2 linked regions of the Homo sapiens genome follow. The protein of the gene in region 1 interacts with the protein of each later gene in a pairwise test. Each region holds a gene or a part of one and is shown on either strand. Other genes may lie near its edges.

Evidence for each region.
Region 2: the proteins of COPB1 (region 1) and NUDCD1 interact in binary tests that used the Homo sapiens proteins (3 or more experiments, as listed by UniProt).

The regions. Positions count from the first base shown.
Region 1 is NC_000011.10:14,456,969-14,461,817, reverse strand, and holds the end of COPB1 (coatomer subunit beta), read left to right. Parts: intron 1-486; coding exon 487-632; intron 633-1,520; coding exon 1,521-1,610; intron 1,611-3,130; coding exon 3,131-3,286; intron 3,287-3,934; coding exon 3,935-3,994; 3' UTR 3,995-4,306; downstream 4,307-4,849. UniProt on the Homo sapiens protein: The coatomer is a cytosolic protein complex that binds to dilysine motifs and reversibly associates with Golgi non-clathrin-coated vesicles, which further mediate biosynthetic protein transport from the ER, via the Golgi up to the trans Golgi network.
Region 2 is NC_000008.11:109,240,378-109,247,095, reverse strand, and holds the end of NUDCD1 (nudC domain-containing protein 1), read left to right. Parts: intron 1-1,614; coding exon 1,615-1,774; intron 1,775-3,794; coding exon 3,795-4,087; 3' UTR 4,088-6,177; downstream 6,178-6,718.

The DNA of each region.
Region 1 (4,849 bases):
TGAGGGATGACTAATCTTGTATCATTAAGTAGTATGGGTCAGCAATATTTATTCAAAAGTATTAGTTAAGTACCTCCTATGGGAACATCGTCCACTTGTATATCTGCTGCAGTGCCTAGTATGCTGCAACTGCTATGTAAGTACTCACTGAATTGAATTATTTGTTTAACCACAAAAAACAAAGTGTGCCTGAGTTCGAATCCTATCCCCACCACTTATCAGTTGTGTGATCTGGAACAACTTACTTAACTTCTCTGCTTTCATTTCCTCATATGTAAGATGGAAAATAATAATACTATCAGAATTGATGGGAGTATTAAACCAGTAATATTTATAAAGCATGTAGAATAGAGCTCTGTACATAATAAGTATTATATAAACAATCTTATTGTTAATAGTGTAGTTCTTTGGATATTTGGATATTAAGATTTTTTAAATTCAAGTTTGCCCCAGTGATTGCGAATCTTTTTGTATATGTAATTGCAGTTTATGATGTCTCTGGAGCAGCAAGTGACAGAAATTGTGTGGTTCTCAGTGATATTCACATCGACATCATGGACTATATCCAGCCTGCAACTTGCACTGATGCAGAATTCCGTCAGATGTGGGCCGAATTTGAATGGGAAAACAAAGTTAGTCCTTGGGAGATTTTCTCATATTCCTTTATCTTTCTTCCTTTTGCCTGCTGTTGAGGAGTCTGCTAATAAAATTAATCTCGCTAAAAAGTGTTTAACATGAAAAGCAAATAGTCTTTCAGTATCTGTTCTTGCAAATTAGCCTTAACTAAAAATCATGTAAGTAGTTTGGTAATTTGCTGTTATAAATTGATTAGAGTAGCAGTTCTATAGCCAATCTGATAGGTTTAGACATTATAGGTAATATTCCATCCCTTCTATGTATGACCAAGAGCTTACCATTTAATCTAGTGCCCGAAAAAGGCTTTACAAAGTTCATGGTCTGTTGAGGAACTTTGTCCCTTTGAGCCTTGACTTTTATTAGAAATATTCTATATGAGGCTGGGCACGGTAGCTCGTGCCTGTAATCCCAGCACTTTGGGAGGCTGAGGCAGGCAGATTGCTCGTGCTCAGGAGTTCTAGACCAGCCTGAGCAAAATGGTGAAACTCCATCTCTACAAAAAATACAAAAATTAGCCCGGTGTGGTAGTCCCAGCTACTCCGGAGACTGAGGTGGGAGGATCACTTGAACATGGGAGGTTGAGGCTGCAGTGAGCTGAAATGACGCACTGCACTCTAGCCTGGGTGACAGAGTGAGACCCTGTCTCAAAAAAAAAAAGAAATATTCTATATGCTTCATATTGAATCTCTGTGAAGTTATCTCTATTGGGAAGTACTGATACCAACCTACAGCTTGTTGGATTTTATAGATGTTATTTAGTTTCTTGGTGTCTACTCTTTCCAACCTAAACAGTTGGAACAAGTTTTTAATATGACATACTGGTGATTCACAGCTTTCTCATAGTAAGATTTATGATCTCCTTGACTTTTTTTTCCTCTCTACAGGTGACAGTTAACACCAACATGGTTGATTTAAATGACTACTTACAGCACATATTAAAGTCAACCAATATGAAATGCCTGACTCCAGAAAAGGTAAAATTTGACTAGGAAATTCAGAAATCTGATGGAATGGTAGAGTAGGTTCCTGGCCTTCCTGTATTTCCTCTAGCACATTTTTGTTATTCAATATGCAGTACCATTCTAGGCTATCTAAAAGATGTTATCCCATAGAATGTTGGAATCTGCTTACCTCTTTCTATTGGACTATACCATCCTACTTTTTCCTAGTGCAGTGACCCAACTGAATAGTCAGATTAATTTTTTTTTTATTTTCTTTTCAATCTTCTCCCCCATTCAGCTAGAGGCACATTCTAAAGTAGTTTATGCTGCACATGGTGGTTCATTCCTGTGATCCTAGCACTTTGAGAGGCTGAGGCGGGCAGATCACTTGAGGTCAGGAGTTTGAGACCAGCCTGGCCAATATGGCGAAACCCCATCTCTACTAAAAATACAAAAATTACCCAGGTGTGGTGGCACGTGCCTGTAATCCCAGCTACTTGGGAGGTTGAGGCAGGAGAATCACCTGAACCCCAGGGGGTGGAGGTTGCAGTGAGCCGAGATCACACCACTGCATTCCAGCGTGGGTGACAGAGTGAAACTCTGTCTCAAAAAGATAAATAAAATCGTTTATTTGTAATACTGGATTAGAAAATGTCCATGAGCTCTTCCGTGGGCTCTGATTGTTGGTTAAAATATATGTGCTCAAATACAGAATCGTTGTTATACTGTGACTTTTTGCTATGTTTGTGTATGTATGAAAAAAACGAGAGAGAAAGAAAAATGAAGCTGGAGCTCTAAGGAACTTTTTTCTTTATGTAAAATTTCTATAATGTTATAATATTCATTTTATAAATAAAATAATGTCTGCTACCAAACAAGTAGGTTTTAATTTATATATTAGTTTATTCAGCATATACTGAGTCCAACAAAAGTAGTCTCTTCCTTCATGGCGCTTAAGGTCTGATATGGGAGGCAGTCAAGCAAGTTAAGTAAACAGAATATATAAATACAAATCGGATTAAGAACTATTTATTTAACATCAGATTTATTGAGGTATAATACACAGTAAAATTCACACTTTTTACATGTATAGTTGAGTTTTGACAAACTCATAAGATTATGTAACCACCACCCTGTATGTAAGTACTGTTTTAAGTGATAAATAACCAATGGGGCTGGGCGTGGTGGCTCACACCTGCAGTCCCAGCATTTTGGGAGGCCGAGGCGGGTGGATCACTTGAGGTCAGGAGTTCAAGACCAGCCTGGCCAACATGGTGAAACCCTGTCTCTACTAAAATTACAAAAATTAGCCAGGTGTGGTGGCGAATGCCTGTAATCCCAGCTACTTGGGAGGCTGAGGCAGGAGAATCGCCTGAACCTGGGAGGAAGGTTGCAGTGAGCCGAGATCACGCCACTGCACTCCAGCTCCAAGCTGGACAACAGAGTGAGACTCTGTCTCAAAAAAAAAAAAAAAAAAGTCACCTATGCTGTTTGGTTTTTGCCTCTATGTAGGTATCTGGTAAAGTAATGAATTTATCACAAATTTTTTCCAGGCCCTTTCTGGTTACTGTGGCTTTATGGCAGCCAACCTTTATGCTCGTTCCATATTTGGTGAAGATGCACTTGCAAATGTCAGCATTGAGAAGCCAATTCACCAGGGACCAGATGCTGCTGTTACCGGCCATATAAGAATTCGTGCAAAGAGCCAGGTAACAGTTCCTTTTTTTTTGAGAGTATCTCTGGACTGACAAAGGGGGGAGGAATTTATGACTTTATTATTTCTATATGTAGTATCTTTTTAGCATTAGATGCATATACACATACAATAATAATATACTCTGAATAGAAGTATAACTTTTCTCATTAAAATTTCTCACCTTTTGGGCCCCTCATTCTGGGATATTTGCCTAAAACCAGATTGATTCCTATGGGGTGTTTGTGAAATGGGTTCTCTAGAATTTTTTGAAAGCCAAGGTGTAAATCTAGTGACTAATTAGCTGGGTGTTGTAGCGCACACCCGGTAATCCCAGCTACTCGGGAGGCTGAGGCAGGAGAATTGCTTGAACCCGGGAGGTGGAGGTTGCAGTGAGCTGAGATTGTGCCATTTCACTCCAACCTGGGTGACAGAATGAGACTTCGTCTCAAAAAAAAAAAAAAAAAAAAAAATCTGGTGACGGCTTGAAAAATCTAGCACTGAAAGGTAATTACCAGTAAAGTTTGGTAAGTCTGTTTGGTATGTCCTTGATTTTATTGTTGATAATGGTGTCATTGAATTGAATTGGGGCTTAATAATATGGAATAACCTACTGATTGTACATAGTTTAAATAATTATAAATATCTTAATTTTTCTTTACAGGGAATGGCCTTAAGTCTTGGAGATAAAATCAACTTGTCACAGAAGAAAACTAGTATATAAAAATAAACAAAAAGTCCTTGAAGCTTTACAGTTAATTTAGGTATGGGCTTACTGGACTCCAACATCTTTTGTACTCTTTCATGCTTATATAGAATCTGAGTTCATGCTGAATACTTTTCAGCCAATAATTTATAGCCTTTCCCTTAAATCAAGATTGAGTTTAAAATTATAGTTTGTCTTTTGTCTTAACAGTTCTGAATGCTGTCCTCAAAGTATATAATGTTTCATGTACCAAGACCCTTTTCACAGTACAATAAACAGATCTATTCATAAATTTTTGTTATTTTATAAATAAATGATTACATAATTTTAGTTATATGGCAATGGATTTCTTTTAGTTGGGTTATAAATTTCTATTATAAATTTAAATTACTGAGTTGTGAATATATGCAGCTTTATTAAGAGAATTTACAAATTCAATGATATAAAATAAGGTAGGCCTTGATTCACTTGGTTGTTTTTTACTTATTTAATATTCCAACATTGCTATCTCTAAAAATGCATTATCATGTTTTGAAGGGATTTGCTCTTGAATTTAGCTCCAGGGAGAAAGTATCAAAATAACTTTTTTTTTTTTTTTTGAGATGGAGTCTGGCTCTGTCACCCAGGCTGGAGTGCAGTGGCGTGATCTTGGCTCACTGCAAGCTCCACCTCCCGGGTTTACACCATTCTCCTGCCTCAGCCTCCCAAGTAGCTGGGACTACAGGTGCCCGCCACCACGCCTGGCTAATTTTTTGTATTTTTAGTAGAGACGGGCTTTCACCATGTTGGCCAGGATGGTCTCGATCTCCTGACCTCGTGATCCGCCCGCCTCAGCCTCCCGGAGTGTTGGGATTACAGGCGTGAGCCACCGCA
Region 2 (6,718 bases), on another chromosome or scaffold:
GGAGTAAGGAGAGAAAAGAAATAGTCTGTGGTCTCTGTGTGCTGGCCTTCTCCCCTTATTTTGTAGAGAGCAAGCACTGGCTCTACGAAAAAGCCCTATTTCCCTGGCATTGCTGGGGAGCAGAAGATGGGTTGCTCTGACACTGTATTCTCCTGTGACCAATAGCCTGTGTTGTCACAGCTTTACCAATAATAGGTCCCCTTGCTGGAGAGCCACTTCACAGCTTTCCCTGTTGAATTCAGGTCAGGTCTCCACTTCTTACTTTAACCCAATCTTTTACGGTTCTCCAGTCTGCTTGCAAACTCCTAGAATCAATTACATATTTATAAGTACTGTGCATATTTTATATTTTCTACATTTGATGTGATTTTTGTTGGTATTCTGTTTCGTATTTTCAACTCTGATAATAACATTTCTCATAAAGAAGACTATCCTTACAACATGTCTTCATTTAGAAAAAGTATTGCTGTAGATGAAATTCAGTGAGTTTCAATTTGATGATTTTGTATTAAAATGCATTTCTTTAGGCATCAATATTGCAGTAACAATTATTGATGTGTTACAATAACAAATGTTGACATTATTGACATATTGACATTGATACTTTAATTAAGCAGTACGTTTAAGTAAATAGTTTTAAACATCTGAGTGTGAATTCCAGCATTGTGATATTTCTCTTTAGCCTAGAACAAGTTACTCAAACTCTCCAAGCCTGTTCTTTCATCCCTTAAATGAAGATAATAATAGCCTTGCGAGTTGTTAAGATTAGTATTTATAACATGCCTGGTTATAAATGTTATGAGAGTGTGCTCATAAATTCTGGTAGTGTCATTGTTCTTGGTAATTATTACAAGTTAGCATTAGTAAACTTCATGTGTGTATTCTATGGCCTAAAAATAGTCTGCTTATAAAATTGGTGCTTTATATCAGCAGTCCCCAACCTTTTTGGCACCAGGGACCAGTTTTGTGGAAGACAGTTTTTCCATGGGCCTGTGGGGGCTTGGTGGATGGTTTCAGGATGAAACTGTTCCACCTCAGATCATCAGGTATTAGTTAGATTCTCATAAGGCAGACAGCCTAGATCCCTTGCATGTGCATTTCACAATAGTGTTCACCCTCCTGTGAGAATCTAATTCCACTGCTGATCTGACAGGAGGTGGAGCTCAGGCAGTAATGCTCCCTTGCCTGCTGCTCATCTCTTGCTGTGCGGCCCAGTTCCTAAAAGGCCACTGACTGGTACCAGTCTGCGGCTCAGTGACTGGGGACCCCTGCTTTATATCGTGTTTTAAACTATTTACTAACAATTAAGAGGTGGTATATCACGTGGTGATTAAGAACATAGACTCTGGGTCCAAATTTCAGCTCCATGACTTATGGCCAGGCTGACCATCGACAAGTTACCTAAATGCCTTGTGCATCACTTTCCTCAGCTTTGAAATGAACATAACAGTAGCACATTTATCTCAGGGATATTATGAGGAGTCAATCAGATTAAGTATATAAAAAGTATAAAACAGTTGCTGACACTTAATGCTGGCTGTCAGCTTCTGCCATTGTTATTGTTGCTATTATTAATTTGTTGTTGAGTAAATTTTTTTTTAAATCACTTTTTAGGTGAATCTTGGAAGCAACCAGTACCTTTTCTCTGTCATAGTGGATCCTAAAGAAATGCCCTGCTTCTGTTTGCGCCATGATGTTGATGCCCTACTCTGGCAACCACACTCCAGCAAACAAGATGATATGTGGGAGCACATCGCAACTTTCAATGCTTTAGGTATAAAGCAAACTCTTTGACATTTTCCATGAAATCAGAAATACAGTCATCATTCATTTAAAGTTCATTTCTTTTTTTTCTTTTTAATTTGAGCTGTCCTGATTACATTTAGATTGATTTGCGCTATGATTTGTTTGCTTGTACTAGTTGTGAGTGTTAGCACTGTTGGAACATTTAGACTAATCTGTTTTTATGCTTGTACAGAAGATCAACACAGAATAGAAATGAAAGTGGTTATCTAACCACTTGAATTATTCTAATAAGTCATTTGCTTTTTCTAATTCTGTAAGCCATATAATACTGGAGTCTGAGCAAGGAGCTTGATAATACCCTACATGGAACTGGTGTTCAAGTTTCTTCAGAGTAATCTTCAGAAACATCATAGAATTCCCCTAAGGTGTAATGCACATTAGGAGACATCTTTTGTCAAAATTAAGTACAAAAGAGAGCCATTATAATGAAAATACTTATGGAAAGCGGTGATAAGCAGAAATTAAATTTATTTGGTAGGATAAAAGGAAAAAAATCAGTTTTAAAATTAGGGCTTGACAATGTTTAAACTACTTAATTATAGACGTATGCAATCATTGATTTTCTGTCAAAATGCATTAGTATTGTGTGACAGAAATTTTTTATGTGAATTAGCCACAGTTGTTGCTTTATTGAAAGGTTATTTTAAACAGGCAGCAAGAAGTGAAGTTACGTATTTTGATGGCTATATGTGCACAACCCTAATTGTAGAAGAAATTTATTAATTATCCCTTATAGTTAATAATGTAGGCTGCTAAACTGGTTCAGACTCCAAATGGATTTTTATGACCTGAAGTACAAAGTTTGGTTAACTAATTTAACCATATAATTTTTAGCCTCCCTACTATAATGCTATTTTTTAATTATCTATACTTTGGTCAGAAGAAAGCTCTATCATATCATCTTTAGATGCTCAGATGTTCTATTTGTATCCCCAAATCCCCTATTATAGGGGAATTCTATGCTTAATTCTAAGTTAAATCAACATATATTAGATATGTACTCTTGAAATATTATATACATTATTCTGTCAAGGTTAGCCTGGATAGCTACTTTAAACTATTTAAATAGGTATCTAAATCTTCACTTTTCCTGCTTCAAACCTGCTTAATATTTTTAAAAACAGTATTGATCTGCATGTGCTCAGTAGTTCCTTTGCTTATTCATTGTTTGATGAGATCTCAATTTTAATTAATGTTATATTCTTATTTTACATGATCATAAATACCTAACATTTGCTAACCATGTCACTATCTAAAAATCATAATTTATATTTTGGAATATAAATGTTGTTTTAATCCAAAAAGATACTTTTTAAACATGTACATGAATTAAGATAAGGATTTTTTTCAGTTTAGAGACTTGAAATTATTTTTGAAGTTATAGTGATCAACATTCTACTTGTGGGGGCTAAAAGTACAAAAAAATCCAGTTACAGTGTTGGTATTGATGTATAAAAATATCACTAACATTTTAGGGATAATAAGAGAATGCATCACGAATACTAGTACATTCAGGGATACATTATGAACAGAAAACTAAAATAACTTTATGATGGTATCCTATACACATTTTCCAATTTATTTAAGAGGAAAAAAATGGTTCTGTGATGCCCTATCCGTAACTCACGAAGCTAAATATTAAATTGGCACTTAAAGATATTTTGTCATGTATTGAGTGTTTTAGATTTTAGAATTTTAGTGTTCGAATTATTCGTGGAAATTAAATGAAGCTATATTACGCTTTTTTTGAAGCGAGAAAGCCATATCTGTTTTGTTCCTTAGGAATTAAAGTCGTATTTTTGTACCAGATGGGAGAGACTGATTGTGGCTAATCGTTAATGATTCAGAATTATATACCTTATGGTATATATTTTACTTGGGCATTTTAATTTGTAATAAACATTGCAAAATATTAAATGTTAAATCATCATTTTTCCCCTTCTGTTTAATATATAGTTTTTCTTTTGTTTGTCTCATATTCTTGGCAGGCTATGTCCAAGCATCAAAGAGAGACAAAAAATTTTTTGCCTGTGCTCCAAATTACTCGTATGCAGCCCTTTGTGAGTGCCTTCGTCGAGTATTCATCTATCGTCAGCCTGCTCCCATGTCCACTGTACTTTACAACAGAAAGGAAGGCAGGCAAGTAGGACAGGTTGCTAAGCAGCAAGTAGCAAGCCTAGAAACCAATGATCCTATTTTAGGATTTCAGGCAACAAATGAGAGATTATTTGTTCTTACTACCAAAAACCTCTTTTTAATAAAAGTAAATACAGAGAATTAATTATTCTAACATATTGGCCTCTTTGTACTGGAAAAGTATTCAGTGGTACCTGGAGGTCTGGACAGTTATACTGTAACCTCTTAAGTTTTAATGTGCTAAATATATCTTGTATGATTTTTTATTTTTTAATAACATTGGAAATATATTCAAGAGATTATGATTCTGTAAAGCTGTGGAATGAAGCTGCAGATTTAGAGAACATTGGCTTCTGAAAAAAAAAAAGAGTGAAGATAGTACTAGCAAGTATACTTATTTTTTAAAACAGGCTAGAATCTCATGTTTTATATGAAAGATGTACAATTCAGTGTTTAAAAATAAAAATATTTATTGTGTACTCTGTTCGTTGATTAGTTGCTACAGGCTGTACCTATAAGATGTACAGGATAATAGTTAAATGTTGAGTATTGTACATATGTATTTAAGTGGATTGAATAACTGAGTCTACATGGAGGAGGAAATGCTAGAGAACAGCAGGTCTAATATTTTTTAAGTTTACTGAGAGACCTTTATTATTATTTTCAAATTAAGTATAGCTTTATGTAACTTTTAGCCAGTTGCTCTGCCACAGACATAGACAAAGAGAGATAAGATTTCACATTATCCATCACTGCATAACAAACCACACCAAAACTCAGTGGTTTAAAACAAGGACTTTTATTATTTTTCACGATTCAGTGAGTTGGCTGTCTCTGCTGTACAGGGCCTCTCAGCCTCCAGTAGACTAGACGAATCTTCTTTCCATAGTAGAGAAAACATCTTAAGAGAGCAAGCTCCAATATGCAAGAGCTTATCGATCCTGTACATCTATCATATTTACTAATGTTCCATTGGACAAAGCAAATCACATGGCCAAGTCTAGAGTCAGAATGAGGGGACTACACAAGCTGACAGCGGATGGTATGACTCATTGGGGGCCATTGATGGAACAATCTTACCACACAAGGACAAATTATAATTTATCCTTGTGGCTCTCTTTATTTTTCTAACAACTTCAACAAAATAATCCTGTTTATATGTTATAGTTTCTTGCCACAAATTTTGTTTTTTCAAACTTACCTTTCCAGGTTTGTTTTAGTATGTATGTACCTGGAAATTTTTATTACTTTTTATACCATTTCAAGATATGTATCTTATATAAACCTCAAGTTGGATTTTATATTTTAATAAGGAAGTTAAGACCTTCATTTAAGAGGCAGAAGATTAAGATAAGAAATATAAGATAGAAAAGCTTTGTTCCTAACATATCTTTTGCCTGTCTGGGCAAGTATTTGACTCAACTAAATTTTAATGAACGAATGAATGACAGAGAGGAGGAAAAAAGATGAGGATTGCATACATGTTCTAAACCCTTTGTCAGATTGCAGTTTCCTAGAGAGTATTGAGGTGCTAGGTAGAAAGTTAGGAAAGGTCCTGAGGACTGGTATTGACAATTGGAGTCCTAATAGTACTCTATTCGTATTAGGAAAGAGAGACTAGATACCAAACATCACGAGATCATAGAGATGGAAAACTGTATAGTAACCAAAAACCAAAACAGTGATATTTCCAGAACTTTTTAGTATTGTTGTAAAACTTCATGAAACAAAAGACCATTTAAATAGTGAATTATTAAAAATCTTTATGATGGGAAAGTAGATCTAAATTTTCTCTAAAATTTTCCCCAAAGATAATATCCTCTTAGGGAACATAAGAAAAATGTATAATAAAAATGTGGTGCTTAATTAACCATGACTATGTATATATTGCCAATTTTAGTAATCAATATTCTTTGTGCATGTGATTTTTTTGCATGATTAATGTTGAATTGAAAGCTCTCAGGATAATTAATCCTAAATATTGTCGCATGTTGACCTACGTTAAAAGATGAATAGGTCTAGAGCCGTGATTTCAAGCTATTTTCCTGAAATGCTTCAGGGATTCCATAAACATTTAAACAATGTTCTAAGGTACATATACTTAGAACATTGAGATATATACTACAAGTGCTAAGAATATAGTACCTTGTATTTTTGTTGATTTTTATCATGTTTTAAATAGGAATTTATAAAATATTTATGATAGTAATAAAGTAGTATTTTATGTGTTTTGCATATTAAGAGTCATTAACAATATTCACTCTTTTAACACATTTAAGCATCAACTATGTACCTTAGCATGATTTTTTCAGTATTAAGGATAATATATTACTAAGGATAAAGAGACAATCTACATTTTAATGATTTTCAGATAAAATTTCTTTTTAGGGAAAAAAAGAGGAGAGGGTGGCATAGAGTGGTTGCTTTCCTGCTAAGGAAGTCTGACCAGGGCTAGAACCTTGGGGACTACCCACAAGAGTCAGGTAGAGGAGTTGCCAATGGGAAGAGTTAGAAAAAAGAATCAGAGTGTCAAGAAATTAGGAATGGTTAACAATGTTAAAAAAAATACTCTTAAATAAAGTATACTCATCAAATTTCTACATAAAAGGGAAATGACTGTACAGAACAAGTTAAACCATCATTACACAGGAATTTCTAATATTTTGTGTTATTAACTATAGAAAAGAACAGATGGTAAGTTTATGTGTGGCAAGTCATATAAGAAGGCAAAACTGATACTTATCACTGATTATTACTGGAAGAATATTCTAATTAC